Homo sapiens: one gene and its partners. The protein of the gene in region 1 interacts with the protein of each later gene in a pairwise test. Each region holds a gene or a part of one and is shown in the gene's direction. Other genes may lie near its edges.

What was found.
Region 2: the proteins of SLC71A2 (region 1) and BNIP3 interact in binary tests that used the Homo sapiens proteins (3 or more experiments, as listed by UniProt).
Region 3: the proteins of SLC71A2 (region 1) and GOSR2 interact in binary tests that used the Homo sapiens proteins (3 or more experiments, as listed by UniProt).
Region 4: the proteins of SLC71A2 (region 1) and ORMDL1 interact in binary tests that used the Homo sapiens proteins (3 or more experiments, as listed by UniProt).

The regions. Positions count from the first base shown.
Region 1 is NC_000009.12:94,439,975-94,448,142, forward strand, and holds part of SLC71A2 (hippocampus abundant transcript-like protein 1), read left to right. Parts: intron 1-1,010; coding exon 1,011-1,125; intron 1,126-4,989; coding exon 4,990-5,208; intron 5,209-6,848; coding exon 6,849-6,962; intron 6,963-8,168.
Region 2 is NC_000010.11:131,971,149-131,979,316, reverse strand, and holds part of BNIP3 (BCL2/adenovirus E1B 19 kDa protein-interacting protein 3), read left to right. Parts: intron 1-5,373; coding exon 5,374-5,524; intron 5,525-6,198; coding exon 6,199-6,283; intron 6,284-7,783; exon of another isoform or gene 7,784-8,168. UniProt on the Homo sapiens protein: Apoptosis-inducing protein that can overcome BCL2 suppression. May play a role in repartitioning calcium between the two major intracellular calcium stores in association with BCL2.
Region 3 is NC_000017.11:46,932,349-46,940,516, forward strand, and holds part of GOSR2 (Golgi SNAP receptor complex member 2), read left to right. Parts: intron 1-2,680; coding exon 2,681-2,821; coding exon of another isoform or gene 2,822-2,932; exon of another isoform or gene 2,933-4,474; intron 4,475-6,250; coding exon 6,251-6,412; 3' UTR 6,413-8,168. UniProt on the Homo sapiens protein: Involved in transport of proteins from the cis/medial-Golgi to the trans-Golgi network.
Region 4 is NC_000002.12:189,773,637-189,781,804, reverse strand, and holds part of ORMDL1 (ORM1-like protein 1), read left to right. Parts: intron 1-6,088; coding exon 6,089-6,240; intron 6,241-7,690; coding exon of another isoform or gene 7,691-7,700; exon of another isoform or gene 7,701-7,956; intron 7,957-8,168. UniProt on the Homo sapiens protein: Plays an essential role in the homeostatic regulation of sphingolipid de novo biosynthesis by modulating the activity of the serine palmitoyltransferase (SPT) in response to ceramide levels.

The DNA.
Region 1 (8,168 bases):
TGGGCTTATTTTCTTCATATATATAAAGGGAGTATTGTAATGTTTCATCATTAGGTGTTAAGCTGGTTTTTAGACTGAAAAATATTCCTATTGTATCCACAGATTTTTAAAAAACATTAAGAGTACATGTCAGATTTTATTTGATGACTTTATAGCATTAATGGATATTATTTGCCTTTTCTCTTATTTTTTTTTTTGAGACGGAGTCTCTCTCTGTCGCCCAGGCTGGAGTGCAGTGGCGCGATCTTGGCTCACTGCAAGCTCCGCCTCCCGGGTTCACACCATTCTCCTGCCTCAGCCTCCTGAGTAGCTGGGACTACAGGCGCCCACCACCACGCCCGGCTAAGTTTTTGCATTTTTAGTAGAGACAGGGTTTCACCATGTTAGCCAGGATGGTCTCAATCTCCTGACCTCGTGATCCGCCCACCTTTTCTCTTTAGAGCTACTAAAATGAATAATTATATTAATAGATTTTTAAATATTAAAATATTTTTCTATCCTGGAGTAAACCCCACTTTTTGTTCTATAAGGTTTTTCTTTGTTAATTTTAAACTGGGTTTTTAAAAAAAGCATCTATCACATGATATAAATTTTTAGTCTTAAGTACACTAATATTTTTCATTATGACTTCTGCTTTTATGTAGATCTTTTCAAATCATTTGTTGTATGTCTTTTCCTTACTTACAGCTAGGATATTTGAGAAGTTTTTTTTCTGTCTGTTGGCTACCTTTAAAAATATAACTTTTACCTAATCCCCTTATTCTTTGTTTTTCCTCTTCTTTTGTTTTTTTAGGGGGCATGTACTGACCCCCTTTGAACAATGATGAAATTAGAATGTTTCTACTTCTTCCTGTCTTAACTTAAATTTTTTTTGATATATTTAAGTATACATACATATACAAGTATACTTATTTCTTGGTGCGTAATCTTTACATGATGTCTTTGGCTCAGGTAATGAAAGTGAACATACACTCCCTTTCCCTTGGGTCATTAAAATAATCTTTTTATAGGTGGTATTTTGCGATGATTTCTGTGTCTGGAGTCTTCTCGGTCACGTTTTCTGTTATATTTGCCTATGTAGCTGATGTCACTCAGGAGCACGAGCGAAGTACAGCTTATGGATGGGTAAGATAATAGACTATATATATTTTTTAACCAGAATAGTAATTAACATTGTATTAGAAATTTACTGGAAAGTGAGTTTATTAGTCCTTTCTTGCACTGCTGTAAAGAAATATCTGAGACTGGGTAATTTATAAAGAAAAGAGGTTTAATTGTCTCACAGTTCTGCAGGCTATAAAGGAGGCATAGAGGCTTCTGCTTCTGGGGAGGCCTCAGGGAGCTTTTACTCATGATGATGGAAGGCAGAGCCAGAGCAGGCATCTTCACATGACTGGAGCAGGAGGAAGAGAGAGTGAAGGGGGAGGTGCTACACACTTTTAAACGGCCAGATCTCACAAGAACTCACTTACTATTAACAACCAAGGAAGGTGGTGCTAAGCCATTCATGAGAAACTACCCCCATGATCCAATCACCTCCCACCAGGCCCCACCTTCAACATTGGGGATTACAATTGAACATTTGAATTTTTTAAAAAATTAGTTTGATTTGTTTCTTGTTATCTGATCCCCGGAGGAGCGTTAAGCAGTCAAGTTGCACAAGCTCTTTGTGCACCTAATTTGGAGAGGTGCTGAACCTCAGCAATGTTAATCCATTGTTAACTCTATTAGTGGTTGTGTGTTTTGGACATACATTTGGAACATGGTATGTAGAAAAGGACTACATTCACTCATTCATCAAATCCATAGTTGCTGAATAACAAAAGTTATAGGAGACCTTTTTTTCTGATAATTAAAACCTGACAGTGTTTCTGATTTTCTCAGGCATGATAATGGCATTATGATTATGTAGAAGAAAGACTTGTTAGAAGATAGCTGAAGCGTTTTACATCAGTGTCAGGACTCTGCCAGTTACTTTCAGATGTTTCAGGGGAAAAGATAGCATAGCATGTGGATGTGCATGTGTGGGCATGTGTGTTCCATGCCTGAACCTGTGAGACATGGAAGTATGCTTGGTACCCTTCTCCCGTCTTCCTCTGTATTTGAAAATATTCAGAATAAGAAAGTGGAAGAAGAAAGATGATCTGGCTAGGTTGTGGGGAATAGGTTGGAGGGAGATTGAATGCCAGAAACTTAGGTTATTTATCTCCTTTTCCTGGGTCTTTTAAATCTACTTCCTGGAGTAGAGTAAGTTCTCATTCATTGCTGACTGAATGAATAACTTCCTGAATCAATGATGGGCATATAAATGGGTTACTACTATTCCACAAAACACAACAATTTTTAACTTGTTGACTTTAGACATCAGTAGTTTGAAAACTACTCTTTCAACCCCACTTCCCTCTGACTCTTCTACCTTCCCTCTCTCTCTCTCCTTGCTTCTTCCCTCCACTCCTGAATGTCCCTCTCATGTCATGCCCTAAAAAGGGGCATCTTCAGAGTCGTGATGGAGGAGGACAAAGATAGAAGCTGATAGGAAAGCTTCGAAGAAGACAAGATTTGGAGCTCACTCAGGAACACCAAAAACAAAAATAGGCCGGGTGCGGTGGCTCACGCCTGTAATCTCAGCACTTTGAGAGGCTGAGGTGGGGGCGGATCATGAGGTCAAGAAATCGAGACCATCCTGGCCAACATGGTGAAACCCCGTCTCTACTAAAATACAAAAATTAGCCGAGCGTGGTGGTGTGCGCTTGTAATCTCAGCTACCTGGGAGGCTGAGGCAGGAGAATTGCTTGAACCCAGGAGGCAGAGGTTGCAGTGAGCCAAGATCGCGCCACTACACTCCAGGCTGGCGACGGTCAGACCCGCCTCAAAAAAAAAAATGTCCCCCAAAACTCCAAAAATTAACAACCTCCCCCCGCCCTGCCAAAAAAAAGAAAAGAAAAAACAAAAACAAGAAGGTAGGTTGTTCAAGTTGTGCCCATAAGGCTTGGCCAACAGAGTAGTGAGGGACAGCTTTCTTCTACAGCATGGGAAATACCTGTTGAGATACTCATTTTTCTGCAATATTTGATTTTTGTTTCTCGCTTTCAGCTGGGAAACCCTTCACACAGCTGTTGTGCTGAGCAGTAGTGCTTTCAGGAAAGATTTAAGAGAGTTCTAACCAGAAGCGCCTGTGACTTAATTACCCTCTCCAGCTCAGCTCCTCATTGTATAATGGCAGTTAGGGTTAATATCTACTCACAGGGGCATTGAGAGCAATCAGTGAGCGCACACATCCAGACTGAGACGGCACTTAGCTGAAGTGTGCTCCCAGCCAGCAGAAGCAACTCAGCATGCAAGGCTGCCTGGATTGCAGTCTACCTATCTTCTAGATATAGGAGAATTTATTGCCAATTAATTACAGAACGTGTCAGTCAAGTTCTAAGGAGCATTTTGAGACCCATTAAAGAACAGTATAAAAATGTGTACACCTTCCTTACTCAGACTTCTTCAGTAAACCAAGAAAGTGGTAATTCTTTCAGGGCTACGGCAATGATTAGTCATGTTAATAAGTGAGTTAACACTTACTAAGAGTTTGTTGTGGGGAAGTCATTCTTTAGATTTATTCATCAGAGTTGTATTGAATGTTAAGTGAAAGAGGAGTTTAGATAAAAACACAGACTAAGCAAGTAGGCTACTTTAGGCTTTAAGATAGACACATTTTGCATAGAGTTTCATGAGGCCATAGACCCTTTAACACCTGAAGATGCTGCAGCAGTGCCCCCTTAACACCTGAGAAGAGTGTAGGAATGTTCCCATAACTGTTTGCTTGTCGTTGCAGTTTATAATGCAGTTATTTGGTTGCCCTGATATTCTTGAATAAAGTGGGAAAACCTGAGGGCAAGAGCTTTGTCTTCTTCATCTGGTACATAGTAGATTCTCAGTAAATATTGAACAAAGGATTCCTATTCCCCACATTGGAATTTTCCACATTCTTTTTTCCCCTCCAAAAATACTTGAGTTTTAGCTTTTATAGTACTTTTAGTATAATACTAATTTCAGATATACTGTGTTTTTTAATTCAGTTGGGAGATGATGGATGAAAAAGAATTTTTTATTGCCAGAAATTTTGGGATTTTTAATAAAATCCATTAGAAGTTTAAAAAGCTAACTTATAGATATGCATTTGACATTTAGTGTGGTTATAATTTGGAGTTTGCCCGATAAGCATCTGACCATCCAGATTGTGTTCTAAAATAAAGTGGACATTCCACATGCTTATAGGAGTGCACTGTGAAGGGGCTCAAGGTGGCTTCAGGTTGTGGGTGTGCTTAGCTGGCTCTGTGGTCTCTATACTGGATAGGGTCAGGTGGTGACAGAGAGACAGAAATCTACAGCTGTCTAGTCAAAAAGCTTCAACTTCCACCTCAACAAATTCTTTGTTGTTGTTAATAGTTTTTTTCTAAGAATAGCAGAGGGTTCCCCCTGACCCCAGGCAGTGCTAATGAAATGACCACCAAATGATAAAATGTTCAAACAGTGCAGTGTTTTTAGAAGATTAAATCAAGCACAGTACTTGAGTAGTTTGTAAGTTTTATCATCAGCCCTGCAGGAATTCTTTTCATACCATCTCACATCCCCGGTCCCCAGTTAAAGAAGACCAAAGAGCTAATGTTTTATTTGTGGGGAAGGTTTTTACAATTTTTGTTTGTAATAAGATAATCCTTTTTTACTCTTGTAGCTCTGCAGGGTATCTCCAGTTAATAGTTTATGAACACATTCTTAAATCACTTTAATTCTCTTTCATTCTTAAAATTTATATGCAACACATTTCTTTTGTCTTACTTAAAGCCAGGGAAGCATGGCTGCAGGTATGCACCTGTGGGACCCTGGTTGAGTGTGCTTTCCTGAAGGTGTGCACCTGCAGCAGGCAGACCTGGGTAAGGATATGCTTTCCCCAGAGGTGTTCACCTATGGGACCCTGGGTGAGAGTGTGCTTTCCCACAGGTCTCAGCCACCTTTGCGGCTAGTCTTGTCAGCAGCCCGGCCATTGGAGCATATCTTTCTGCCAGTTACGGAGACAGCCTCGTTGTGCTGGTGGCCACAGTGGTGGCTCTTCTGGACATCTGCTTCATCTTAGTGGCTGTTCCAGAATCTCTGCCTGAGAAAATGAGACCGGTTTCCTGGGGAGCTCAGATTTCTTGGAAACAAGCAGACCCTTTTGCGGTAAATAAAAATATGGAAATATTTACTTTCCTAAATGTCTTTCTAAGCCAAGCAAATGAAAGTATGTATGTGCAGCCTCAAGGATCCTAGCAGTTGTTGACTTATTTCTTTAGTAAAAATAGAAAAAATTAATTGCAAGTAAGGGATTGAGTTAGTCTTTGTATTAAGAAATATATAGAATTGGTACTTAAGCATGTCATAAACGAAGAGAGAGAAAATGTCTAGTTAATTCTTGGTGAGAGTTTGGGAAGAGAGTTTCTTTTTGCATGGTTGTTTTCATCCTTTTTAAACAAAATAAGTGAAAGTGGTCATTTGAAGTGGTCATTTTCACTCATTTTAACTCAAAAAGGATAAATGCCTTTGGTTTGAATGAGTTATTTTAATTTTGACCAGAGACGTTTAATTTGTTTGTTACAGATTGAGTATTGTTTTCTATAATATGTCTCTCTCTCCCTCTCTACCTCCCTCCCTTTCCTCTCCTTTTCCACCCCCTTCTTTTTTGGCATGGGAAGGTGGTGTGTCACTGGAAAACATATCTTATCTCTCACCTTCTCTCTACCCTACCTGGTTTGAAATTGTTCTTGGGGAAAAAAAAAGTTTGTAGACAAAAAAAGAACCAGCAGTTTGGTTTCTGCTTTTCGTCCCCCAAGTTTACCTTTCAGAAAAATTCATGTAATCAATCAGAAATTACTTTTTCTAAAATACCCCCTGAGGGCATGACCTAGGGATCCTGCCTGTTCTATTATTGTCACAATGTCAGACACCAAAAGAAATATTTAGAGAAGGAAGCCAGTAGTGGGGTTGGGAGCCAGCCAGTTAGGCTTCCCACCTTCCTTTGTAGTGATCAAGTTATGCATCAAAGCTCCTCTGTGAAGTAGAGCTACTGTGGCTTACTTTTCCGGGCAATCGTGGGGATTACTGTTAATGTGTGTAAATTAACTAGCCTAGTGTCTGTTGCCCAGCAAAGTCTCAACAACATTAGCTGCTTTTGCTTATTAATTACATAAAAGCTATGGTCTGATGAGCTAGAAGCTCTGTAGCACTTTCCACTCCTTTGGTATTAACTTACCATTTTGTTCTATTCAACAATCCAATGTATGTAAGAAGGATTTTTCAACAAGGTTGTAACATTCAACAAGTTCTTACCAGTTTGACCTTATGGCTGGAGCGTACTTATTTGTCTACCAGATATAAAAGTTGAACATGAACACTTTGAAGAATAGAGTGAATTTACCTATACGGAAACGCTCTGTACTGAATATGGCTTTAAAGAAGTTACATTATGAATTGAGAGAAGTGATTTTCTTAAAAGGTTCTGTAGGAATATATTTCCAGGTTCTGTTTATAGGAAGTTCGGGATCTGTTCAGGGATTTTAATCAGTGTGTTAACAAAGATGAGTAAGTGTGTTTTGTGGGTTTATTTTTTTGCTTTTTTTTTTAGCTATATGATTTGAAATATATACCTCTGAAATTAAGACTTGTAACTTCCTCAGAAAGATGGTGATAGAACTTCCTTTTATTAACCATTTGACTTTTGTTATTCATCTTAATAGATCAAAATAATGAAGCTGATGTCCCAGAACATTGGCAACATTAATGTGTATTGGCATTTTAAGTGTGTTCTTTCTGCTTATTCTCAGTCGTTGAAGAAAGTTGGAAAAGATTCTACTGTCTTACTAATCTGCATCACCGTGTTTCTTTCATACCTTCCTGAAGCTGGACAGTATTCAAGTTTTTTTCTCTATCTCAGGCAGGTGAGTAGTGAGTGGCTAGTAGCCTTTCAATACCAGGAAAATCAAAGATGGAGATTTGTCTAAAGATATTTTGAGGAAACCACTGCAGAGGAAAAAACATGTGAACTTGCTTCTAGTTACAAATGTAGGTGCTGGCATATAATTAGTAAACAGGGCACCTTTAATGCAATGATTTATAGTAAGATAATTACTGTGGAAATTTTTTTTTCTTGAGAATTAACCAGAATTAGCAGAAACATAATTTATCTTTTTTTTTTTTTGAGACGGAGTTTTGCTCTTGTCCACCAGGCTGGAGTGCAATGGCACGATCTTGGCTCACTGCAACCTCTACCTTCTGAGTTCAAGCGATTCTCCTGTCTCAGCCTCCCGAGTAGCTGGGATTACAGGCGTGCACTACCATGCCCAGCCAATTTTTGTATTTTTAGTAGAGACAGGGTTTCACCGTGTTGGCCAGGTTGGTCTCGAACTCCTGACCTCAAGTGATCCACCCGCCTCGGTCTCCCAAAATGCTGGGATTACAGGCGTGAGCCACTGTGCCCAGCCTGTTTTTTTTTTTTTTTTTTTTAAATAGACTATTTTTCTAGAACAGTTTTAGGTTCACAGCAAAATTGAGAGTAAGATATAGAGATTTCCCATATATCCCCTATCCCCATACATGCATAGCCTCCTCCACTATCAACATCTCCCACGAGGGTGGGAAATTTTTACAACTGATGAACCTACATTGACAAATTATCTTAACATAAAGTCCACAGTTTACATTAGGGTTCATGCTTAGTGTTGTACATTCTATGGGTTTGGACAAACGTATGATGACATGATAACATGTATCAACCCTTACAGTATCACACAGTGAATTTTCACTGCAAAAATCCCTTATGCTATGCCTGTTTATCTCTCCCTCCACCACCAACCCCTGGCAACCACTGATCTCTTTATTGTCTCCATAGTTTTACCTTTTTTCATACAGTATGTAGCCTTTTCAGATTGGTTTCTTTCAATTAATAATATGCATTTAAGGTTCTTTCATGGCTTGATAGCTCATTTTGTTTTTGGCATTTGTTTGGATTTGCCAGTTTATCCATTCACCCACTGAACGACACCTTACTTGCTTTAAAGTTTTGACAGTTGTGCATAAAGCTGCTGTAACATTCATGTACTGTAATGTTTTAATCTTTAATAATATTAATTAAATTTAACAGATAA
Region 2 (8,168 bases), on another chromosome or scaffold:
TTTTCTACTTATTTTGGAGTGGAGTTGTAGCATTGTGTGCTTTGAGACCTGAAGGGGTTGCAGACATCGAGATTCTCGTCCAAGACTTGCATTTCATAGATGGTCACAATGAGGTTCTAGAGGTGGAGTGAAAGATAAGGCTGGCAACAACACTTAAGGAGAAGCCAAGGTCTCTGCATGAGGCAGCAGTGGGATACCTGGAGCCCAGATGCCTGAGGCTGCGTGCAATAGGCCCTGGAGGGTCCTGGAGGAGAGGAGGCCAGAGGTCCTGGAGGCAACAGGAAGGTGGAGGGAAACGAGCCCCGTTGGAAGCCAGGGACCTGATTTACCTACCCAGCTGACTTGATACTTGAAATCTTTTGTCAGGCGGGTCTCTTTTGTTCTCTCCCCACTAACCTGAGAAGCTTTAAAGGTAAAACAGCAATTTCTTAGAGCCCACCTCCCCTGGGGAAGAAGCCCTTTGTATGGTTTTGGGGTGCTAGTTCCCTCGGGGGTTCACAGCTCCTCTGCTTCAGGTTTTTTTTCTGGGATGCTGCCTCCCTCTGTTCTGACATTTATCCCAGAGCTTTTTCAATCTATTTGCCTGGATTCCACCCCAGCATCCCAAATAGTCACTTTCAGAGTGGGCTGAGGCTAGGCTTTTGGAGAACAATGAAAAAACACCACAGGTGATTCTCCCTTCATAGCCAGAGTTGAGGTTGTCACCCCAGGTTAGGGCATAGGGTGGCCTTGAGAACTTGGCCCTGTGTTTACTCCACGTGGGGCTCGTGGCTGTGGCCCATGAATCCATGTTGAGGAATGGGACCCAGGGAGTTGCCCTGGGACATACAGAGGGCAGTGAATCGAAGGGATTCCCTGGAGTCTGTCACTGGAGGGAGAACTGCTTTGGGCACCTAGAAAAGCTGGATGTCAGATGATTTTTTTTTTTTTTTTTTACACAAAGTGAGAATAAGAAATGGATTAAGAACTCTTGTTGGACTGTATTTTGTCTCTGAGGCAGACCTATCAGTTTTCTTTTTGTACTGTGATATAAATATTTATAGTCTAGGCTTTTCAAAATCTCATCTACCTTGATATAGGAGGGAGGTAAGATTTACTGGCTGTGTGTCTTGTTAGCAATGTAAATTATAAGTGAGTGAGGAGGGGGAGGAACATGAGAGGGACGCGAAATGAGATTAGGAAGGAGGGCTTTTCTTGCAGCAGCAACAGCAGCACCTTTCCGTCTGGGGCCTAATTATACTACAGTGATTTGAAGTGTAAACTGCTTGTGATTATGAGCAAGTTTTCTAAGGTTATTAAGCAACCTTACTGTAAGCCCATCTTTCTTTGAAAAGGTGAACGATCCGAGTGGAGAACTGTAACACGTGAGTAGATACACAGCACGCTCCATTCTCCAGGAAGTGCCTTCCTTTCCTACGCGGTTGCTGTGGGTTAATAATAAAACTCCTGTCCCTTAGTAAATCATTCCTGGGAATACAGCTTTTGGGCCCAAAGTCATTAGCCATGGACAATCTGGAGTGAGTTTTTTTTCCTTGTTTCCTGGATTTTTAGGTCCTTTCTGGGGTGATGTTTAAAAAGCACTGCTTTGGTTCGAATGTGTTCCTCCATGTTGCCAGTGGGATGGTAGTAAAAGGTGGGCCTTTAAGAGGTGGCTCGGCCATAGGGGCTCCTCTCTAGTGAATGGGATTAGTGCTCTAAGGGGCTGGATGGAGGGAGGTGGGTCCCTCTGTAGCCTCATTGAAGGGATGAGGCAGGAAGGCCCTCAGCCGACACCAGATGTTGGTGCGTGGATCTTGGACTTCCCAGCCTCCAGAACAGAGATCAGTTTCTGTTCGTAAATCACTAAGTCTGTGGGATTCTGTTGCAGTAGCGCAGAGGATGACAGAGATACACTTGTCTCTCCTTCATCTTCCTCTCCCTGTTGTCTTCAGCCTGCCCCTTGTGTGATAGATTACAGTATGTGTTTGGTCTTGACCCTACCTACTTCCTGGTGCAGAGCACCTAAACCCCTGGGGCTTCCTGAGCAGTGTCTTTTTTTTTTGTTTGAGACACAGAGTTTCGCTATTGTTGCCCAGGCTGGGGGGCAGTGGCATGATCTCGGCTCACTGCAACCTCCCCCTCTCAGGTTCAAGGGATTCTTCTGCCTCAGCTTCCCGAGTAGCTGGGATTACAGGCGCCCACCACGCCCAGCTAATTTTGTATTTTTAGTAGAGACGGGGTTTCACCATGTTGGTCAGGCTGGTCTCTGACTCCTGACCTCAGATGATCTGCCCGCCTCGGCCTCCCAAAGTGCTGGGATTACAGGCATGAACCGCTGTGCCAATAAGTGTCTTAAGCATGTTTATTAAAGAAAGTAAAACAGTAAAAAGATGGTGACTCCATAGGCAGAACAACCTGACCAGTGTGTGCGTTATTCATAAAGTCACCCTATTAGCAGTGTACTCCAAAAGTGCTCCTTGGTTAACCATTTTTGGTGTAAGTTGTAAGGAGCCCCTTCAGAATACACTGCTAATACAGTGGCTCAAGGGTGGCCCCAGGATAGTTACTTGAGGTAGAAATTCCCAGGGCAGCCCCTCCTAGGAGGGGAGGGGACTGGAGATGGAGATGGGGGAGCCATGAGGTGCGGGTAGCATGGTTGGGGTTAGGGTTGGGACATGTGGGGTAAGTGGGAGTCTGGTTGCAGAGAGTGTGGTTGGGGTTAGGGTTGGGACGTGTGGGGTAGGTGGGGATCTGGGCTGTATGTCATTTCCATTTGTCTGCCCTGGAATTGTTTCTGGTAAACTGATAAATGTAAGTAAAGAGTTTTTCTGAGTTCTGTGAATTGTAGTAAATTACTGAACCTGAGGCAGGTGTGTGGGATCCCCTGAGTAGGTAGAGGCACTGGCAGAAATACGGGTAACCTGGACACCCCATTCTCTGCTTGCATCTGTGGGAACAGTCTTGTGGGCTCCACACTAAGTCTAGGTAGATAGAATGGAATTGAATCGTTGGACACCCCGGTGGTGGTGACTTGGTGTCCCACATTTGATGTTAAGAGTGGCATCAGAGAAGAGACACCACACCTTCAAGTTGCATTTGTGTTCCATATCGTCAGATAGCTGAACAACACTTTAGTCAAGTAAATTGAAGCAGGCCCAGAATCTGAATACTGTAGATTCAGCGGAGAAAGACAGCTGGCCAAAACAGAGGCTGTGGTGCCGTTCTCTCAGGGGCAGGCCATGGCTAGCCGGCCGCATGGCATCTTGAACCGCAGAGAGGGAAGGAGGGCTAGTGAACATCAGAGTACTTGGCAATACTGTCTGGTCAGATGAGCGGCTTCAGGAATGGTGTGGTCTGTACATCTCAGAAGGCACCATGTAGCCTCTGCCAGAGTGTGGGGCAGACTGGCCTGGGCCTTTCTCCTCCATTGAGCTCCAGGCTCCGAGACAGACCCTGGCTTGCCTTTGTATTAGGGATGTGCTTCGTGTAGGCCAGGACATGAGGCAACGTGAGAGGCCAAAGAGAACAATCATGCGTTCATTTGAAAATTTGTGTGATCATTTCGTTAGCAGCTTACTGGGAGACTGTTGATGGCATAAGTTGCAAATCCACTTTTCCTTCCTGGGCCTTCGGTTTGCTTTTTTCTGGTTAATATGAAATAGACTCTGCAACAAGTGGCGTATGGAGCCTAGGCCAGCCCTCTTTCAGGAGAGATGCCTCGTGTGTGTGGAAAGCTGTGCACCTGCCTTTGCTTCCAGCGAACATGACGGATGAAGAGGCTGCTCCTTTCCCCCTAATTGCATGGTGTTATTAGTGCTGTGTTGGTTTAAGGACAGTCAGCAGCTCAGGGTGATTATTCTGCTTACTAAAATTATAGTGACTGCAAAAATGAGATAATTCCATTGTTCTCGTCCATAAGTTTCCCTGTCTTTTGTGGCCTGCACTTTCCTCCCACTGCACTCCATCCTCCATACGCTACCAGAGGAAGCTCCTACCAGATTTGCTTTAAATAAATAAACCTATGACACAAAGTAGAGAGATTATCTGGGGCCCAGAAATAGACGTGTGCCTATATGCACGCTTGATTTCTGACACAGGAAGCAGCCAGCGCAGAGTGAGGCGGGAGCTGTCTGCAGTAAATGGGGCATCCGTCTCACATCAATGGGAAAATTAATCCATGTAGATTTTGGATCTAAATGTGACTGTCATAACAGTAGAGCTGTGTGAAAATAATAGAATAGAATATCTCAGCTCAGGAAGGGATTGCTGCATTTGACTGAATTAAAATCAAGAACTTCTGTACATCAGAAGACATCAGAAGTGAAAAGAACAAGCTACCGAGGGAAAGTTACTTGCAACATATTTAAATGCAGAAAAACATATATCTAGAATACAGAATTATCCCAGAATTGCACTTTTAGCAGTAAGGGAACGGGAGCAGCGTTCCAGCCTCAGTTTCTATTTATAATGGTGACATGGAAAAAATACTGCTGGATGCCCACAAATAAGAGAAAGACAGATAATAGAAAAGAATAAGAGATTCGAAGAACCAGTTCAAAAAAGATGCTATCCAGATGGCTAGCAAACTTGTAAAACCGTCTTCAACCTCGTTAGAAATTATATAAATGCAAAGTAAGCCACACGATGCAAGTCATAGAGGCTGGGCATGGTGGCTCACGCCTGTAATCCCAGCACACTGGGAAGCTGAGGTGAGAGGACTGCTTGGGCCCAGAAGTTCGAGACTAGCCTGGGCAATATAGCGAGACCCCATCTCCTAAAAAAAATAGCCAGGAGTAGTGGTGCATGCCTGTAGTTCCAGTTATTCCGGAGGTGTCAGCTAGAGGATGGCCTGAACCCAGGAGTTTGAGATTATAGTGAGCCTTCATCGTGCCACTGCACCCCAGCCTGGGTGACAAAGCGAGACTCCGTCTCGAAAAGAAACAAAAAATAGAGCTTAAACCTTTTAAAGAAAACTTCAAATCCCTTAAGCTTATGTTGACATTAGTGTTGTTGTTGTTTTTTTTAAAGACCTCTTTTTCCAAATAATAGCCTTTTTCTTATAAAAGCTCACTGCAAGGAAGTATTCTAATTGGATTCTGTTGACTCAGCAGAGTTATTGGACATTGGCTTGGTATAAAGGGACTGCAAGAGCTGGACAGATACATGGTCTCAGCCCCAGGGGGCTTCCTTCCTGTACCCAGGGAGTGTGTGCGTGGACAGTCACTGCCATGAGAGTGGGCAGAGGGATGTCTTCAAGTCGGGGTTGAGGGATGGTTCCTGGTGTGGCACCATTGCTACCTCTTGGAAATGGAAGGGCAGGCTGGTTAGATATCAAGAGCAGATTCCAGAGTGGGTAGAGAATTCCATCTGCGCCCCTTTTTTTGTCCCCATCAGGCTCCTGGGTAGAACTGCACTTCAGCAATAATGGGAACGGGGGCAGCGTTCCAGCCTCGGTTTCTATTTATAATGGAGACATGGAAAAAATACTGCTGGACGCACAGCATGAGTCTGGACGGAGTAGCTCCAAGAGCTCTCACTGTGACAGGTAGGCGCGCATCAACAAGTGTATGTGTTACAGTGCCGATGTCTTCAGTGGGTGACAGTCACAGCTGGAAGTGCCCGTGTCACCTCTAGGACAGTGGGCTGCTGTTCGCCTCGGGCCGCGTTCTGGACTGGCTCCTGCTGCAGTCCGTCCTTATATAGGAGCCTCGCCCTCTTTGGGGATGCAGTGACCTGGGACTTAGTCTGTGGGGAGCCATGTTCAAGTCATCAGTAGGCAGCGGAACAGCCACAAACCCCACTCTGAGAAACGCACTCACGCGCCTCAGCGGGGCTGTGGTCGCAGGAGGAGCGGTCCCTGGTTAGCAGTACTTCTGAGTGACTCCAAGGTAGAGTGGCCGACAGTGGTCAAAGGTCGCGTGCCCTTGAGAGCTGTGCAACAGACCCAGACCGTGAAGGCGGCAGGTGACAAAGCCAGCTGCTTGCCAGTTGCCCCTGCGTCTTCTCTGGAAGACTGGCTAGCTCACTCCTGTCGTGCTCAGCCAAAAGGGCTGAGGAAGAGTTTGGCTCTGGCAGGTGCTGGGTGGAAGGGAAGACGCGTACGCTGACTGGCTAGAGCCCCTCATCACGGAGGCGGTTCACTGCCTTTGGGGTTTGAGCTTCTAATGATAGAATGTTCACATGATGTTCTGTTTTTCCCATTCTATTCACATCGCCAAGCCCACCTCGCTCGCAGACACCACAAGATACCAACAGAGCTTCTGAAACAGATACCCATAGCATTGGAGAGAAAAACAGCTCACAGGTAAGCTGGAAGGAGAATGTGCAGTTGTAAAAGTATTTGTGATCTGTTTGTACAGGAAACGGTTTTAAATGTAATTGAGCACCTCAGAGAAAAGTCGGGCTTTAAGGGTGTTTCCTGCTTTAAAAAAAACAAAAAAGCGAAACAAAAAAACCAAGAAACTGTGGGTGGGAACATCCACAAGCACATGGGCTGGACACTCAGCTGAGCGGGGGAGGCGCCGAGTGGGACAGGCAGCGGGGGCCTCCTGTCCCTCCCTGCCTGCCATCAGGGATACACCGGAAAGGAGGAAGGGCTCCCTGGTGGCTGCAGCCTAGAGAGGAGGGAGGGACCATTGGAAGGGGTGGCAGTGAGCCAGCTACTGGCTGGTCTTTCCTCGTGGTTGCTGGTTGGACAGTGAGTGGGTTTTAATATTTGCATGCTGTGTGGGACTCAGGAGTTACCCACGGGGCCATCTAAGGCCATGTGGCCACTGTGGCTGTGACTCTGAGGTGTCTTCCTCATTAGACACTCACTACCTGCCGGAAATTACACCCTGTGCCTTTCCTAGCATTAGTCCTGAGCTAACTGGTGCCGGAGCAGTGTAGCATTAGCGGCTGATCAGCCTGATAATTTAGTGTAAGATCACTTTTTCTTCTTTTTTAAAAAAGTTTTTTTTGTAGAGACGGGGTCTCCCTGTGTTGCCCAGGGTGGTCTTGAACTCCAGGGCTCAAGTGATCCTCCCAAAATACTGGGACTATAGGTGTGAGATACTGTGTCCAGCCTAAGATGACTTTTCTGTTAACAGCTATTGAATGGGCTTTACAGAGCGGCCTTCAGCATTGTTGTGAAAGCGGAGTGAGTCTTAGAGGAAAAAGTGTACCTGGGGTTATTGCCTTGGTGTACTATCGTTCTCCCTTCCTACTCCGGCACAGATAGGGTTCGAGGCAGTGATCAGTACTGTCTTGCTCAGTTATATCTGGCAGTGCCTTACCTTGCTGCAGATGAGATGCGCGATGTGTTTTCTTGGGTGTTCGTTGCTGGTGAGAACTTTGACGACGGACTGTGTTCTGTATTTTGGAAGCTCTGTGAGGAAGCATGGCCTTCCAGGCAGGGTTAGTAGCTGACCCTTCCGTGCTAGCGCTTCCCTCAAGGCTTTCTTCACCAAGGAAACAAGGAGTCCCTGTTACCCAGGCTTTCTCAGGGACATCCCCTGGCCCCACTCCGAGGGGCAGCATGATTTCGGGAGCCCCAGGAGCCCTGGCTGTGGGTGTGTGGGTGCATCCAGGGCGTGCGGCCTGCTCCTGGGCACTTGGGGCTGTACCCAGCTTGGGTGTACCCAGATGTTTGGTGGGTTTGGGGAGCTATATTCTTGAGTATTTTCAATTTTATTTCTTTTTTTTTGAGACAGGGTCTTGCCGTTTTCACTGTTTTACACAAAACTTCCCCTAGTTTTAAAAGGAATTAGATGTTCAGGTACAGAATTTTGAAAATGCAAAAAAGTAGAGAAAAACACTTAGACTCTCAGATTTAAAATCCTCTTTAATGTTTCGTGCTGTTATATAATTCTGAGGATTTGGCCGCAGCTGTGGTTATGTGGACATTTCTGCCTTTTCCCTCCTGCTTATCCCGGAAGCATCTTGTAAACCTGCTCACTATACAGTGTCCCTTCCTTCGTCATGTCCCTGTTTTGAGCCGTTTTCGGCTGTTTTCATTTTCTTTTCTTATAACCAGTGCTGCCGTCACCATCTTTGCCCTCATGTCACGTGACTTCCCTAGGACAGTGTTTGCCGCTGTCAGTACCCCCAGAATCTCACAGTGAACCAAATGTATTTACGCCCTGAGTGGGGCTCCCCCAGAGGTGATCTGTCCCTGGAGGCGGCGAGCGTGCTGTGAGCCGGGAGTGCGG
Region 3 (8,168 bases), on another chromosome or scaffold:
CCACAGAGACTAGACCTAGACAGAGAATCCCTTTTTCTAAGACAAAAACCTGAAGAGGAAGCAGTTAAATTGAAGGGGAATAGGCAGAGGTGAAAATTACCTGGTTGGGCTGGTCTGAGACAGAAAGGTGGAAGTTCACATGGTGGAAACGTTTTTCTGATCAGATAGAGACAGATGATTAGAACTTAGGCCATTTGTAGAGAAGGCAGCATTTCAAAGCTGCCTGCGGGCAGTTGCCATTGTGCCGAGTATGTGTGTGGCTCCAGTGTCAGGTGCATTAAGATGTTTTTGCCCCTAGTCTGAGCAGCAATTTGGAGGAATTTGTTAACAGATGTTTAGGGTTAGATGGACTGCTTGCCTGAGTCTGTCTGAAAGTGTGTTGGTTTGCATGTTTGATTTTTCAGAACCCATTGTCCCTGCCCTTTAGTCTTAACCAGATCATTTCCTGCACATGGCTGTAGAACATACTGGCCTTTTCTGTGTCCTGCATAATATATTCCACTAAATGAAGTGTGCTTTGGCTTTTTGTATTTTGTTTTTTTACAGAGGATTATTTTCTAAAGAGATGTTAGCTTTCTAAGCCAGTTGTTAAAATTCACATCATTTCCTGCTTTGTAGATGTTTAACCCTCAATGCTGCATCCTTGCTTTGCAATAAATTTTCCCAAGTGTTTCAGGCTGTGCCAACATAGTTTTTGCTTCCCCAGACTAAGCAGTCAAGTTACAGTGTTTAACAGTTCAAAAATTTAATGAACTATAAGACACACTAAAAGATGTTTGGATTTTAGATCGTTATAATGTAGTATTCAGGCCTTTTTTAGGCCAAGGATGATCGCTTGGGATTATTTTGTTTTTTGCCAGCCTGGCGTGATGCTGTGCACACCGTCAGTTCTTAATAAACATTGACTTGCCAGATGAAACTTCTTCCTGGTCATTCTACCATATGGAGCTATAATACATTTTTCTGAGAGATAATGGCCCATCAGCCATACTGTTTTAGATGGGAGGGTAAGAAAGATTTGTATGTGAATGGCATTTCATAAGTGCTAGTCAAATTACTGAAGAGAAGTCTCTGAGTCTTTCAAACGCCAGCATCTTCTGACACACTGGGCATTAGCTGCATGCAGAAAACTAGTTAATTCAGGCACTAGGAGTAAAGCACATGATGAAATTAAAAGACCTGACGCCTATCTGTGAGGAGCTCCCCTGTTAGCAGGGGCAGTTGAAAACACGTATGTGCAAAATGATTCCAAATCTGAGCAGCAAAGAAACAGTGGCATAACCTTTTTTTTTTTTTTGGACAATTGAAACTGGAATTTAGGTGGTAAAAACAGCACTAGTGGAGCAGGGCACAATGACACACGCCTGTGATCCCAGCACTTTGGGAGACCAAGGCAGTGGATTGTTCAGGAGTTCACCATCCTGGGTGACATGGTGAGACATTGTCTCTACAAAAAAATATAAAAATTAGCCGGGCGTGGTGGCGTGAGCCTGTGGTCCCAACTACTCTCTGGAGCCTGAGGTGAGAAGATCACTTAAGCCTGGTAGGTCAAGGCTGCTCTCTATCCTGGGTGACAGAGTGAGAGCCTGTCTCAAAAAAAAAAAAAACACGAAACAAACCCCAGCACTACTTGGCAGGAGAGCTTGTGATTGGCAGAAAAGAGAAGGGAACGCTCTCACAGCTGGCGAGGACTTGGCTCCTGCCTATAGTCCACTTTCAGAGCAAAAGTAGAGCCACCAGGATGGGCGTTGGTGTTTCCCTCTACAGTGTGGGTAACAGGGCAGGCCCTGCGCTCAGTACCCACATTCCCAGCTCCACTGGACTTCCAGCTCTGTGATCACTGGACACACTTCCAGCTGTGTGATCTTGGACAAGTTATTCTACCTCTCTGGGCATTTTTTCATCTATAAAATGGGGAGGCCTGTGGACAGATTCCTTGAGCACAGGAGTTGGAGACCAGCCTGAGCAACATGGTGAAACCCTGTCTCTACCAAAAATACAAAAAAGAGAAAGAAAGAAAGAAAAAAGCTGGGCATGGTAGCATGCACCTATGGTCCCAGCTACTCAGAAGGCTGAGGTGGGAGAATTGTTTGAGTCCAGGAGGCTAAGGTTGCAGTGAGCTGAGATCGCGCCACTGCACTCCACCCTGGGTGACAGAGGGAAACCCTGTCTCAAAAAAAAAGAAAATGCAGAAGCACAGCCTCCTCTATCCTTAGTTAACTCTCAGTCTACTTGGAGAGGTAAACTATAGATAAAATAGCTAAAGGACACGAGCAAACATTTAACACTGCATTAAGGGGAAGCCATGGAAAGGAACATTTGGAACCAGCTAGGTTAGTGAGTAGTCAGAGAAAGCCTTTAGGAGACACCCAATGAGGTCTTGAAGGAATAGCTTTTCCTAAGAGGAGATCATGATACAGAGACAAGTATCGTTGGAATGAACGATACTTGTGGAGTGGAACTCATTTGGAGAGTGACAGATCTGAGGAAGTTCCTCTTCTGTGTGGACAGAGGCCACCCCAGGCCTTTGCTTTGCTTTTTCTTATCCATTAGGGTCCGCTGATTCTTTCACCAGCCCCTCCGGCTGTTCTGGCTTGGCCTTGGCCAAAAGACAGAGCAGTGAGACCCCAGGAACTGACTGATAAGCAAAGTTAATCAAGTGCCTGTGTTTCTTTCACAGGACTCTGACACCACCATACCAATGGACGAATCACTGCAGTTTAACTCCTCCCTCCAGAAAGTTCACAACGGCATGGATGACCTCATTTTAGATGGGCACAATATTTTAGATGGACTGAGGACCCAGAGACTGACCTTGAAGGTGGGGTCCCTGCTGGGGGACAGAGAGAAGGCCTCTTGTTTTAGCCTCATCCAACAGTTTAGTAACTGTGTTTATATTTTGATTACGTGTCCTCAAATTGTGATATTTTGATGACAAGACAGAGCCCTTGAGTTTGGGATCCTTTCTGTTGGAGTTGAGTTATTGTGAGCCTGAAAGTACCCAGTTCCTTTGCCAGTGCTTGAAACAAACCATGAAGTGGCCTCTCTTAGGATCCAGGTCTTTTCCCATTTACTGAACTTATCATGAAAGTGAGTGCTACTACGAGGGGTCCAATCACAGGCTGAGAAATTGTGTTACAGAATCTACTCTTGGAAGAATGAAGACGTGGCTGTCCTTTGGTACCTCGCTTTAAGGTGGCTTTCCCTTAGGACCCCTACTGTGGACTGCCTTATAACTAAAACCTTTTGTATTTTAGTAACTGAATCCCCACTGTGCAGTGTTAGGGCTGCCTGGTTGTTTGCAGTAGATTAGAGCTTTAGAAGCTTCTAGAGCTTCTAAAGCCCGTGCTGGTGATCCCAGCGACTCTTCACTCCCTAGCCTTAGGTATTCCTAGAAGCCCTGACCAGTTGGCACTGCTGAGACTCCAGCCCCTGGGAGTGGTTTACAGAAACATTACACAGACTCTGATGTCAGTCATGATGTTTCAGCCTCTGCCCTTTTCCTGTATCAACCCTGATGGATAATAGGGCGTGGGTTCTGTCTGTTATCAGGGTGTGGTCCCCTGTGAATGAAGCACTCCCAGCCACTGAGCTGTGAGAAACAGTCACTCGGAAGTGTGAGCTTTATCTTAGTTTTTGTTGGATCATGTTGAGTCTGTCAGCTCCACAGGACTTCAGTACGTTTCTGAACAGTCCCTGCCATCTCTACGGGGGAGAGGGTCAGGCAAGCTGCAAGTGACACTCACCTCCTGCTGACAGTTGCAGTGTCTCAGATGGCCTGGAAGGGTGGTCTCCAGCAGCCTGCTGGGCGCTCCCCTTTCATGAGAGCCACCTGCAGTGACCTGAACTGATACATGTTGATTAGTCTGCCCTTTCTTTAGAAAACTGCTACTCTCCTTTTCATATCTCAGAAAAACAGTAGAGGCCTTTTAGGACCAAACTCCATGTCACACTGATGAAGAGCCAGTGGGGGTTAGAGCGTCCTGTTAAGGCACATGCTAACTTCCCACTCAAGTCTGGCAGCGCTGGGGCATCAGCACACCTCTTGCCACCCACACTGATACCAGAGGGGAAGGCTGTGAGGTGGCTGGGGGTTGAGACTTGAGGTTTCTAACTTTCCTCTGCACACCTGTGGCTACCTGGTGTTTGTCTCTTGATTCCCTCCACCTGCCTCACACCCTGCCTCCGTCGGGATTTTCCACCTACACCATTCAAAAGGAACATAGGAGAGGGCATGAAGGGGCTAGGCTGAAGCACTCTGATGACTGGGGCCAATTTGTGGCTGAAAATGAATACATTTTTTGAAATTTATGGTCATTTTCAAGTGATTTAGAAGGTTGATCCTTAGCCTCATACAGTGATGAAATAATCTGTGTGTTCAGAGCCAAGCAGGACTTTAGCAAGAGTCTGATTGTATTGTCACTATCTCGGGGAAAAAAAAATACAAATACATTTCTCTGATCTCTGATGGCAATGAAGTTTGACTTGTAATTTCTCTGGCTGAGGCTTCTTAATTGCTTTCTGGGCAGAATGTAGATTTTGGATTCCTGTCCATGATGCCTAATGTTGATCTCACTTTCCTTGTTTCTCTCAGTTGCTCATTAATGTGTATTTATTAAAAAAAAAAAAAAAGGATATGGGGCATGAGGTTAGATGCCATGCATATAAGTTGCAGTGGGTGATATGTGCTGAGTGACTTGGGGTCTGCCCCGGCATTCACTTATACTTGTTTCTTACTAAGAAATTGAATGTGCTTTAAGCTGAAAATTAGAAAGCAGTAGGGAAGGACAGGCTGGATGGTTTGGGTTGTTGGTTTAGGAATAAAATGCCCTTTTGTTTTGGTGGTGGGTGATGCCATCTATAGAAGGGTTTTAGGTCATTGTGTTGGTGTCTTTCCGTCTTTCCCACTTGAGACCCTCTTGTAAATATGGACTTGACCCACCCATTGTACTCAGAAGAAACCTCAAAGATTGTACTCTACAAAGTAAATAGGTTGGTATCAATGATTATTGGAACTAGAGAGCCGAGGACAAGTTTTTTGATGTTGCCTTCTTTTTATAGTATAAAATATTCTAATTTTAAGTATTTTTGTTGAGATATAATTTACAGACAGTAAGGTATACAGATCATATTTTTACAATTCAGTGAATTTGGGCAATTGTATCAGCCTTTGTAACTCACACTCCCATCAAGGCCCGGACCATTTCACCTCTGAAAGATCCCTCGTACCCCTTCCCAGTCAGTTGACCCCTCTGCCCCAGGCAGCCACTGTTGTGATTTATTTCACCATAGATGAGGTTTTCTTGTTATTGAACTTCATATAAAGGTATTCATGCTACTCTTTTCTATGTGGCTTCTTCCTCCCAGTATGTTTCCAAGGTTCATTCATATTGTTACCTATTTAATTCCATGTTGGTAGTCAGGTACTTTTTATTGCAAAGCAGTATTCCATTGGTACAGGTTTACCATAGTTTGTTCATTCATCTTGTGATTAGTGACACCATTGTTTTCAGTATGTATTTATTTATGTATTTTTTGAGACAGGGCCTCCTTCTGCCACCCAGGCTGGAGTGCAGTGGTGTGATCTTGGCTTACTGCAGCCTCGAACTCCTGGGCTCAAGTGGTTCTGTCACCTTAGCCTCGCAAGTAGCTAGAACCACAGGTGCACACCACCACACCTGGCTAATTTTTTTTTGTAGAGAAGGGGTCTTCACTACGTGCCCAGGCTGATCTCGAAATCCTGGCCTCAAGTAATCCTCCCACCCACCCCTCCCAGAGTGCTGGGATTACAGGGATGAGTCCCTGCGCCTGGCCTGTTTGCAGTTTTTAGATATTCTCCTGTGTTTTTTTCTAGAAGCTTTAATTGTGGCTTTAGCTTTTATGTTTAATTCTATGAACCATCTCAAATTAATTTTTATGTATAATGTGAATTGAGGTTCAATTTTTACACACATATCTGTAAGAGAGATACATATATATAAAATACATACCTGTGATATTATATAGTCAGTCGTTCCAGCACCATTTGTGGAAAAGACTTTTCTTTCCACTTAGCGTTGCTCTGGTACCTTGATCAAAAATCAGTCGACGACATGAGAGTGGCTCTATTTCTGGCTGATATTGCTTTCTGTGTATTCTGGGCATGACCAAGAGAATGTCTGTTGGCAAAGCTCCATCTCCTGATGCCATTCACCCACTCTTGGTAAAGCGACTTGATGTTTGTTTTTTTTTCTGTTCTCTTCTGCCCCAGGGGACTCAGAAGAAGATCCTTGACATTGCCAACATGCTGGGCTTGTCCAACACAGTGATGCGGCTCATCGAGAAGCGGGCTTTCCAGGACAAGTACTTTATGATAGGTGGGATGCTGCTGACCTGTGTGGTCATGTTCCTCGTGGTGCAGTACCTGACATGAGCCAGCCACGCTCAGTGGCTGAACAGCATTCCCACAGCCTGCAAGTGTGTGTGTGTGTGAAAGAGAGAGGGGGGCCCAGAGGCCGCCTTTTGAAATGTTTGCCTGTCTGAACTGTGAAGACACTTGGGAGTGATTGTGGTCTAATTTCCAACCTGCTCTGTTTTCTGTGACATCTTGGAGGGGGAGCTAGTGCCACCACCATGCGCGGTGCTTAGGAAATGAAAGAAGTCCCGGGTCTGTCTCTCTCACTCTCGCTCTCACTGGGGGAGGGAAAGAATGGCTTTGGTGGCTTTGTTCACATAGCTGATGCGTGCCCTGGGAAGGTGTCCACAGTGAGCCCTGTGTGCAGGACTGTCCACACGGTTCACACCTTGTCACCATCAGGCCTTTCTGGCTCCTGATAGGGTGGAGCAAAAGTGGAAAGGAAAGGAAAGAGGCCTTTTCTCACAGCCATTATATTAAATAGTAGGTCGATTCACATCCTCGTGCTCCTGGCCACCCTCCCCTGTGCCTCAGTGACATGTAGATGACTGACTGCCAATACTTGTCACCATTCCCTGGAAGCAGCTACCTAGGGGAAACAAGATGTAGTGCTATTGCCGATAACAAGTAAGATTTTCCACACTACAGCTGGGTGTTTCTCTTTTCTAAAGTGAGGCCAGTGTTATTTCCCGGGAGTGTTCAGTCTTGACCCTAGTCACTGATTTTTTCTAGTTGTTAATAGAGTGGTTGGCTTTTAAGGTTCAGAGACTGTGGCTTGGCACCTGCGCCCAGGCTTTGTGGGCCTTTGCCCCTTAGAAAGTAGCTGTAGGCAAAGATTTGTGATTTTCCAATTACAGTCTCAGCTCTAGTTTTAGTATCTCTAATTCTTTGGTTCCCTTCTCTTCCCTGAAATATATTAGCACCTGCCAGCCAGGCCCTCATTTTGCCCAGCCAGTGTGGGCAGATCCCACCGTGGAGACATCTGTAGTGTGTATGTCCTTGTAACACTCTGTTTTCAGGGACTACAACCTTTTTCCTTCTGTGACCAGCCCCGGATTCAGGCTGTACTAATACCAGGTATATTGTGGAATTTAGTATAAAGGCCAATCTGTCCTGAAGTCCATCTAATGTGGTGAATCACTGAAAGTCTCAGAAAGACCTGGTTAGTGTATGTTCTCATTTACCACAGGCCTACCAGCCCTGGGCACAGCAGCTTCATGGCAAGACATAAAATGACACTCAAAATCCTTCAGATCTGGAAACCGGCTCAGTATTAACCCTACCTTTGGTTGTCCTGCCCTACCTGCTCTGTTAGTTTCTTGTTGCTTGAACTGTCTTCTGTCTTATTTCCCTTCCTTTCTGTGTTCCTCTTCACCTCTCTTGTTCCCCTCCCCGCTGCTCTGTAGTCATGTTGGTCCTTTCAGGCACCTCTGTGGCATAGCTCCCCTTTGGTAAGTTTTCTTAATTGTCATAGATTAACTGAGTTTCCTGGATGCTAATTTCACACTTTCGGTTGGAGGAGATCTCCATTGTTCCTACCCCTCCGGGCCAAATGGGCCCCAGGTTTCCAAGGAAGGAGCAATCTGTGACTCCTAAAATGGGTTGGGGCCCTGCCAGAGTTAAAGCAGTGACTGGAGGGTGGACTGGGGGGTTGCAGCATCTTTAGACCTAGATCTGTCTAACTCTGGGGAGGCACATTGACATTTCCATTACACACAGCACTGCTGCGGTGCCAGGGACCTAGCGCAGGACTTTTGGTAATCCATAAAATGGA
Region 4 (8,168 bases), on another chromosome or scaffold:
AAGTGTATAGTTTAGTAGTTTTTAGTATATAAGACTTAATTTTGAAGAATTCTAATCTGGGATAGAATTTTCTTTTTTCTTTCACGCTTTATTTCAACATTGGTCCTTTTTCTAAGTAAGACTTTTTTTTTTCTCATTGTATAGAATCTAGAAAATAGATCATTTTAGTTTCAATCCTTGTTAACTTATCTATCTAAATAGTGTAAGTATACTTCACTGTTTCAGTATTTAAGTTTTGAACTTAATCATCTTATGTGATTCAGGATCTTATGGTGCCTTAGCTGCTGCTTGTTACTCTCTTGTGTTAGCTCTACAGAGTATCAAAGTTTTGATTGACTGTACTGACCATATTATGCAGCCCTGGAAATTGCCTTTTACAAAAACAAAAAATCTTGACAGCGACTTTTCTTGTCTTTAATAACCCATTAAAGTAACGTGAAAAGGAGGAAATACAGTTAGTTGAGGATTTTAATTGAATCCAGTTTAGCAGTACATTTGTTGAAAGATATTTTTTAAAATGAACTTAAAGCATTAAGACAGGAAAACAGGAGAAATTGATTTTTAAAAATTAATATTTATTTTGGCCAGTCACGGTGGCTCATGCCTGTAATCCCAGTGCTTTGGGAGGCTGAGGTGGACAGATCACTTGAGCTCAGGATTTCAAGACCAGCCTGGGCAACATGGTGAAGCCTGAAATTCTGTCTCTACAAAAAATACAAAACCTTAGCCTGGCATGGTGGCAGCACATCTATAGTCCCAGCTATTCGGGAGGCTGAGGTAGGAGAATCGCTTGAGCCTGGGAGGTGGAGGTTGCAGTGAGCCAAGATCGTGCCACTGCACTCCAGCCTGGGTGACAGTGAGACCCTGCCTCAAATAATAACAATAATATTTATTTTCTATCTTCTGGAGTATATTTGAAGTTGACTGGAGGAGGATAAGAATGATGTGCTGGTAGACATGATAAATATGTGTCCATTTAGTCCATTTTATGTGATAGACTTTGTAAGAGCAAACGATGTTTTCTTTTAAATAGTGACTTCTCTGAAATATTTTACACTAATCATCTCACTTTTGTTGAAACTTCCTTTGGCTTCTATAGGATCACTTTCACCGGCATATATTTCTGACCTTCTCTTTCTTCTTATGGGGTCTTCCTTCTCTTTTCCTCTCTTAAATATTTCTATTCCCAAGGTTCTTTTCTTCATCTCTTCTTATGCTATGTATTCTACCTAGGTTACTTCATCTACCCATATTTTCAGTTTCTACCTGTAGAATAAGGATGCTCCTATTTATTTTTATCACCAGATTACTTTGCACCTTAAACCAAACAAGTATAAATGGAACTTATCTTATTCCTGATTACTCCCTTACCACCCACAATCTGATCCTCTGGCTTCACTACTAATCTTATCTAAAGGCCAAGCCAGACAGCTGAATGTTAATGGTAAAGCAATTAATATACAGGTTGAGCATCCCTAATCAGAAACCCAAAATAGAAAATGTTCTAAAATTAGAAACTTTTTTAGCACCAGTGTTGTGCCACAAGCGGAAAATTCCATACCTGACTTCCTGACAGGTTGCAATTAAAATGCAATCAAAACTTTATTTCATGCACAAAATTATTAAAGATACTATATAAAATTATCTTTAGGCTGTGTGTGTATGATGTATATGAAACATAAATGAATTTCATGTTTAGACTTGGGCCCTGTCCCCAAGATATCTCATTATGTATATGCCGATATTCCAAAATCCAAAACAATCCAAAATCTGAAACACTTCTGCTCCAAAGCATTGTGGATAAGGAATACTCAACCTGTAATGTATAGTCCAAACAGGCTGTTTAGAGAGTAAAATGGAGCTTTGGTAATAACTACTACAAGAGATTAGGTATAATCAGAACCATCGTATGCAAACAAGAATACAAGGTCACCTAAGTCTTAGGATAACTTCTTTTCCTTTATATTCCATATCCATTTGCTCAGAGCACTGTCTTCTACTGCTTTACTCTCAACTTGATCCCCATACCCTCATTTTTTCCTCAAGTAAATTACTCAGATAAATCAAATAGTCTTCTTGATGCTTCTCTACCCTTCTCCATTCCAGCTTGGCAGAGTGATGTTTTAAAAATGCATGTTTGCTCAAGTCATACTCTAAGTCATTCAGTGATCATCCATTGCAGTCATGGTAAAATCCAAGTTTCTTGTGTGACATATAAGACCAGTTGATAACAGTGCAGAAACAAGGAGACTTCACCTTGTCTCAACCATCTCTAAATAGAGGCTATACACTAGCAATAAAGAAAATCATCTTGCTCTCATTTTATTGTTTTGGCTTAAGCTTTTCTACTATATTTTCTTTTCACCTGGACCAAGTACTCTTTTGTTTTTAAGAGACTGGCGTGATCATAGCTCCTCCCACCTTAGCTTCCCAATAAATTTGAGGACTGCAGGCACATGCCACCACACCCGGCTAATTTGTTTTTATTTTAATAGTGATAGGCTCTCACTATGTTGCCCAGGCTGGTCTTGAACTCCTGGCCTCAAGCAGTCCTTCTGCACCATCCTCCAAAAGTGCTGGGATTACAGGCATGAGCCAGCATGCCCAGCCATTTTGTTTTTCTTACAGAGACAGGGTCTCACTCTGTTACCCAGGCTGGAGTGCAGTGGCATGATCATAGCTCACTGCAGCCTCGAACTCCTGGTCTCAAGTGATCTTCCTGCCTCAGCCTTCCAAGTAGCTAGGACTATAGGTGTGTGCCACCATGCTCAGCTGATTGACTGATTGAGATGGGGGTCTTGCTGTGTTACCCAGTCTAGTCTCAAACTCCTGACCTCAAGTGATCCTCCTGTCTCAGCCTCCCAAAGCATGAGTGAGCCATAGTACTCAGGGTCTACTTTTATTTTTTTTGAGATGGAGTCTCTCTGTGTCATCCAGGCTGGAGTGCAGTGGCGCAATCTTGGCTCACTGCAACCTGCACCTCCCAGGTTCAAGCAATTCTCCTGCCTCAGCGTCCTGAACAGATGGGACTACAGGCATGTGCCACTACACCTGGCTAATTTTTGTATTTTTAGTACAGATGGGGTTTCAACATGTTGGCCGGGCTGGACTTGAACTCCTGACCTCAGGTGATCCACCTGCCTTGGCCTTCCAAAATGCTGGGATTACAGGTGTGAGCTACCATGCCCGGCCCAGTCTCTACTATTTTAATACCTCTCCCTCCTTCCTGCTCTGCCTGATTTCCTACAGCAAAACTGTCCCTCCAGGAATCTACACAACTCCCATGCTGCATTCTTTTATCATGTGTTTGTCATTGTTTTATAATTAGCAGTTTATCTCTTTATGTTTTAATTTTTGTATCGCTAAGAACGTATTTAAATGTTTGCCGAATAAGTTAGTCCTTTTTTTTTGAGACGGAGTTTCACTCTGTCACCCAGGCTGGAGTACAGTGGCACGATCTTGGCTCACTGCAACCTCCCCCTCCTGGGTTCAAGCGATTCTCCTGCCTCAGCCTCCTGAGTCGCTGGGATTACAGGTGTGCACCACCATGCCTGGCTAATTTTTGTATTTTTAGTACAGACAGGGTTTCACCATGTTGGTCAGGCTGGTCTCGAACTCCCAACCTCAGGTGATCTGCCCGCCTCGGCCTCCCAAAGTGCTGAGTGTGAGCCACCACGGTTTAGATGCCATCCCTGTACCACCACCACCCCCTAACCGTGTTTCAAGTTGGTTGACCATGGACAAATGATTGGTAATTGACATTGTATAGAAAAGCAAACTTCTGATTTATTTGTTATTAGTTCACCACACTAAAAACTTAATTAGCCATCGGAGTTGCAATTACATGACTCCAAATTTAAGTTTCCTTTGAATATAGCCACATTAAACCAATTAAAAATCTGAAGTACATATTGAATGCCTTTAAAAATGAGAAAATGGACCTAATTGTTACACCCGGTTAGAAAAATACAGTATATTTGCCTTTCTGAACCGTACAGTAGAAACCTACAGTGGTTGCTTTATTAAGTGCTACCTCACCCTTAGAGGTATTAATGCTTCACAGGATTCTTGGCCCAGCTTTAAAAATGAATGATTCATTTTGATTCAGTAGGTATTTAGTAAGGACTAAGCATGAGCTACATACTTTTGTTCTCTAATTCTTTTAATGGAGGAATAATAATCACAAACATTTTTACATAAAAACAATTTAAAAAATATTGGGGCAGTAGATATATGGCCAGATAAGATTTTATTATTTTTCACTGAAAAGATGTATAAAATAAACTGTTTTGATATTCTAAACACTAGTTAAGTACATATGGTTTGAAGGAAATAATGAGAGGATGATTATTCTCTTATATTCTAATATCTATGTGGTCTGGAATAGATGTTCTTAACTTTTTGGGGGTCCTATACCCCCGATGATTTGAAAACATATACTTTCTGTTTTATAATTCACTTTAAAGTCCATATGAAAATGGTTTCGTAGAGCTTACAGAATAAATACTCCTTGGCGTAATGTCATCTTCCAACATTTCTAATGTTGGAAGTGTCCAATGTCTAATGTCTTGCGGTGTCCCAGTGCTTATTCCGAGTGTATTCAGGCTAATGGGAAAACAAACATCATGCAAACAACTCTAACATGATATATTGTACTGTAATCGTATTTTCAATAAAATTGTATACAACTACATAAAGAGGAGATTAATTATTACTAATGAGGTAGGTTTTTCTAAGGAATTGTTATTTGAGCTGAACCTTTAAGAATGAGGTAATGAAGTAGCATCAAGACTTTTGGCACAGCAACAAGGAACCTTTCCCTCCCCTGCCATTTGCTGAGTATTCTGATTGTACCTTTGATAGCAATTTCTGCCCTACTTTCTAGCTGTTTATGCATTTTTTTTCCTTATCATCTCTTGGAGGATTGAATTTTTCCAAGGCTTGGGTACATCTCATTCAATTTCATATGTGCATATATGTCCTATGTCTTGTACATATAAGCCACCTATTAAATGTTTGATGGGTTAAATCCAATTGAACATGAGTCCTTTCCTCCATAGCTTACGTGTTATTGTAGCTAAACGACTTCTGAATTGCCTACTGGAATAACTAGGAAGTAGACTAAGCCTTGAAAGGAAGGGCTTGGTTAAGTTGGTATCATATAAAATTTCAAATCCCTAATTTTTCTATATAATCATTAAAAGTAGAGGTAGGAAAAATGACATCACATTGTGGCGTCTAGAAGGAAAAACTTTGTGTCATGATAATATTTAGGCATTATCCCTTTACATAAAGTGCCTCAAGCAGTGATCCTGAATGAAACACTGCCTATGAGTCTAAATGGGTATCATAATCTCAAGGAAACCAAATCTATAGATTGGTTTTTTTCTACCCTATTGATAAAAAAAATTATATGTTTAGACATATGATCTGACAGAATGGCTTTTAGTAATGTTATTTGCTTTGAGTTTTTAAAACTGACTTCAGAAGAAATGCTATTGAGGCACAATAGCGATTTAAAAAGGGAATTGAGTGGAACATTATACCTATTATATCAAACTATTTTTATTGCTTTGGAAGAGAACTATTAAGGCAAAGGCAGTCATCATATTAAATATCTCAAAACTATTTTTCCCAATAGATTTTAATCATTTTATTGTTTTCTACCACTTTGTATGTCTTTATCATTTTTTAAGTATCATCAAATTTACTAATATACCCTGAAGAAAAACCTCCTGTACATTGGGGAAAAAGTAATCCTATTTCCTAATAGGAAAAGTGTAAGAAAATCTGAATGTAAAGATATGAAGCTACCCTGATAATTATTTTTAGTTTAACGAATAGAAATGCAAACAGGTTACTTTCAGTTGACCTTTTACCAATTCTCACTTAATATTTTTATACCCCAGAAAGTTCTATTTTATTATAAAGAAACTGGCTACAGCCTTTCACTATTATATGAAAGCTTAAAACGAACTCAGTTAAATCACACACTCTCACAAACAGCTTGGAACCTCGTTAATGCTACTGACAAAGACTAATTTTGTATTTAATATTGATCATTTATAACCCCTTGCTTGTTTTCCAGGGGATGTACGTATTTTTGCATGCAGTGAAAGGAACACCTTTCGAAACTCCTGACCAGGGTAAAGCAAGGCTCCTAACTCATTGGGAACAACTGGACTATGGAGTACAGTTTACATCTTCACGGAAGTTTTTCACAATTTCTCCAATAATTCTGTAAGTGGCAGAAATTTTTAGGTATGAGGAGGATTGGATAAGAGGAAGATATCTTTTCATCAGATTGAATTGGAATTAGAAACATATTTTGTTGCAAACTTCTATCAATAAGTAGCACCTCGGATAGAACATAAAATATAGACAAAATTTTTAACAAGTTGATAATAAACTAATTTTCACTTCAGTCAGTACATATACGGAGACAATATTACATGCTAATCAGTGCACCTAGACATTTAGGATATACAGGTCAAATGTATTCCAGCTCCCGTCCTTAGGTTTCATATAAGGACACAAAATACATAATCATATTCTATATTGCACTGTCAGATTAATCTCCTTAAGCAATGATTTAGATAATGAGAAGAATTTCACTGGCCACCTATCCTATTAAGATATTCAGACTCCTTGGGAAAGAGTATGGTTTCGAAAAAAGTAGGTCAGGCTTTCATTATAGGATAGACCTGGGTGGAGTCCTATATATATCACTCAGCCAGCTTGGTTTGCTCATATATAAAATTCTAGCTAGTGATACCTAATTCAATCCTAATGCTGTAAGAAATAAATGAGATAATAATCTACCTGGATAGCATGTAACCTGTATCTGGTATCTAATTTCTTTCTCCTATCTGATGTTCTGGGCCTTCCAGAAAATAGTTCTTACCTCCTTTTCCCTTGATGTAAATATTTTATCCCCACCCAACTCCTACCTGGCCTTCTAAGCAGCATTTCTTGAATATTTCATGTGTAGTCCTATTTCTGTCTTTGTTCAAATCAGTTCAAATCATATCTCCTACCTGAAATGCCTCCTCCTTTTTTCCCCAGCTTTACTGAGGTATAATTGACAAATAAAAAAATGTATATATGTTTTATTTTGTCTCTCCAAAGAATTTATAAGTGCATGGATTGCTTTGAATCCCACAGTAAGTACAGTGGCCTACACATAATAGAGGTATTGCTCATATATCTTAATACTCTGTACCATCTAGCCTATACATAATAATGTCCATGATAGAGTCAGTGCAGCCTGGCATAGCACAAAAGACTTCTTGGAGGTGTTGGAAATCCTTATGTTAGAACTTAAGAGAGACTAGGTTTTAGATATTTAAGTAAGGGAAGGCATTTTTAAAGTGAAAGGAATAAACTGATCATAAAATAATGGGGTTCTTTTTCCTTAATTTATAGCCCTTTGAGGAAATTTTGAATTGATTTAGTCCCATATAATATTAACCTCAAAGAAAAGTGTCAGTGTAGTCTGATAAAAATAAATGTAAGCTACATGGGAAGCTGAGGCAGGAAGATGGTTTGAGCCTAGGAGTTAAGAGGCTGCAGTGAGCTGTAGTCACACTGCTGTACTCCAGTCTGGGCAACAGAGCAAGACCCGATTTATTAAATAAATAAGTGAATGAATGCATGCATGCATGTAATAACAAAAATATTGGTTATTCAGATGGCCCTGAATTTGGATTTTGGCTCAACCCCTTTGAAGCTCTGTGACTTTTGGCCGTTTTCTTCAAAAGCTCAGTTTTCTCATCTGTAAAACATTGAGGATTGCATTATAATACATGTAAAATGCCTGACATTCAGAAGTTTTAATCACAGCTATCACACAAAAAGCCAACTGAGATGTACCTGTATACAGTGTCCATATTTCTCAAAATGTATTTTTGACCAACAGGTATGATTTCAAATATTCTGATTAAATTGCTTACTTAACTGAAGAAATAGCATTAAAGCCATCTATATAGCATTAGGACTTTTCAGTGCTTTCACATTTTCTTATTTGATTATTTGTCAGGTAGGTGTGACATGGAATGTTATTCCAGAATTTTTTTTTTTTTTGAGACAAGAGTCTTGCTCTGCTGCCCAGGCCGGAGTGCAGTGGCATAATCTTGGCTCACTGCAACCTCCGCCTCCCAGGTTCAAGC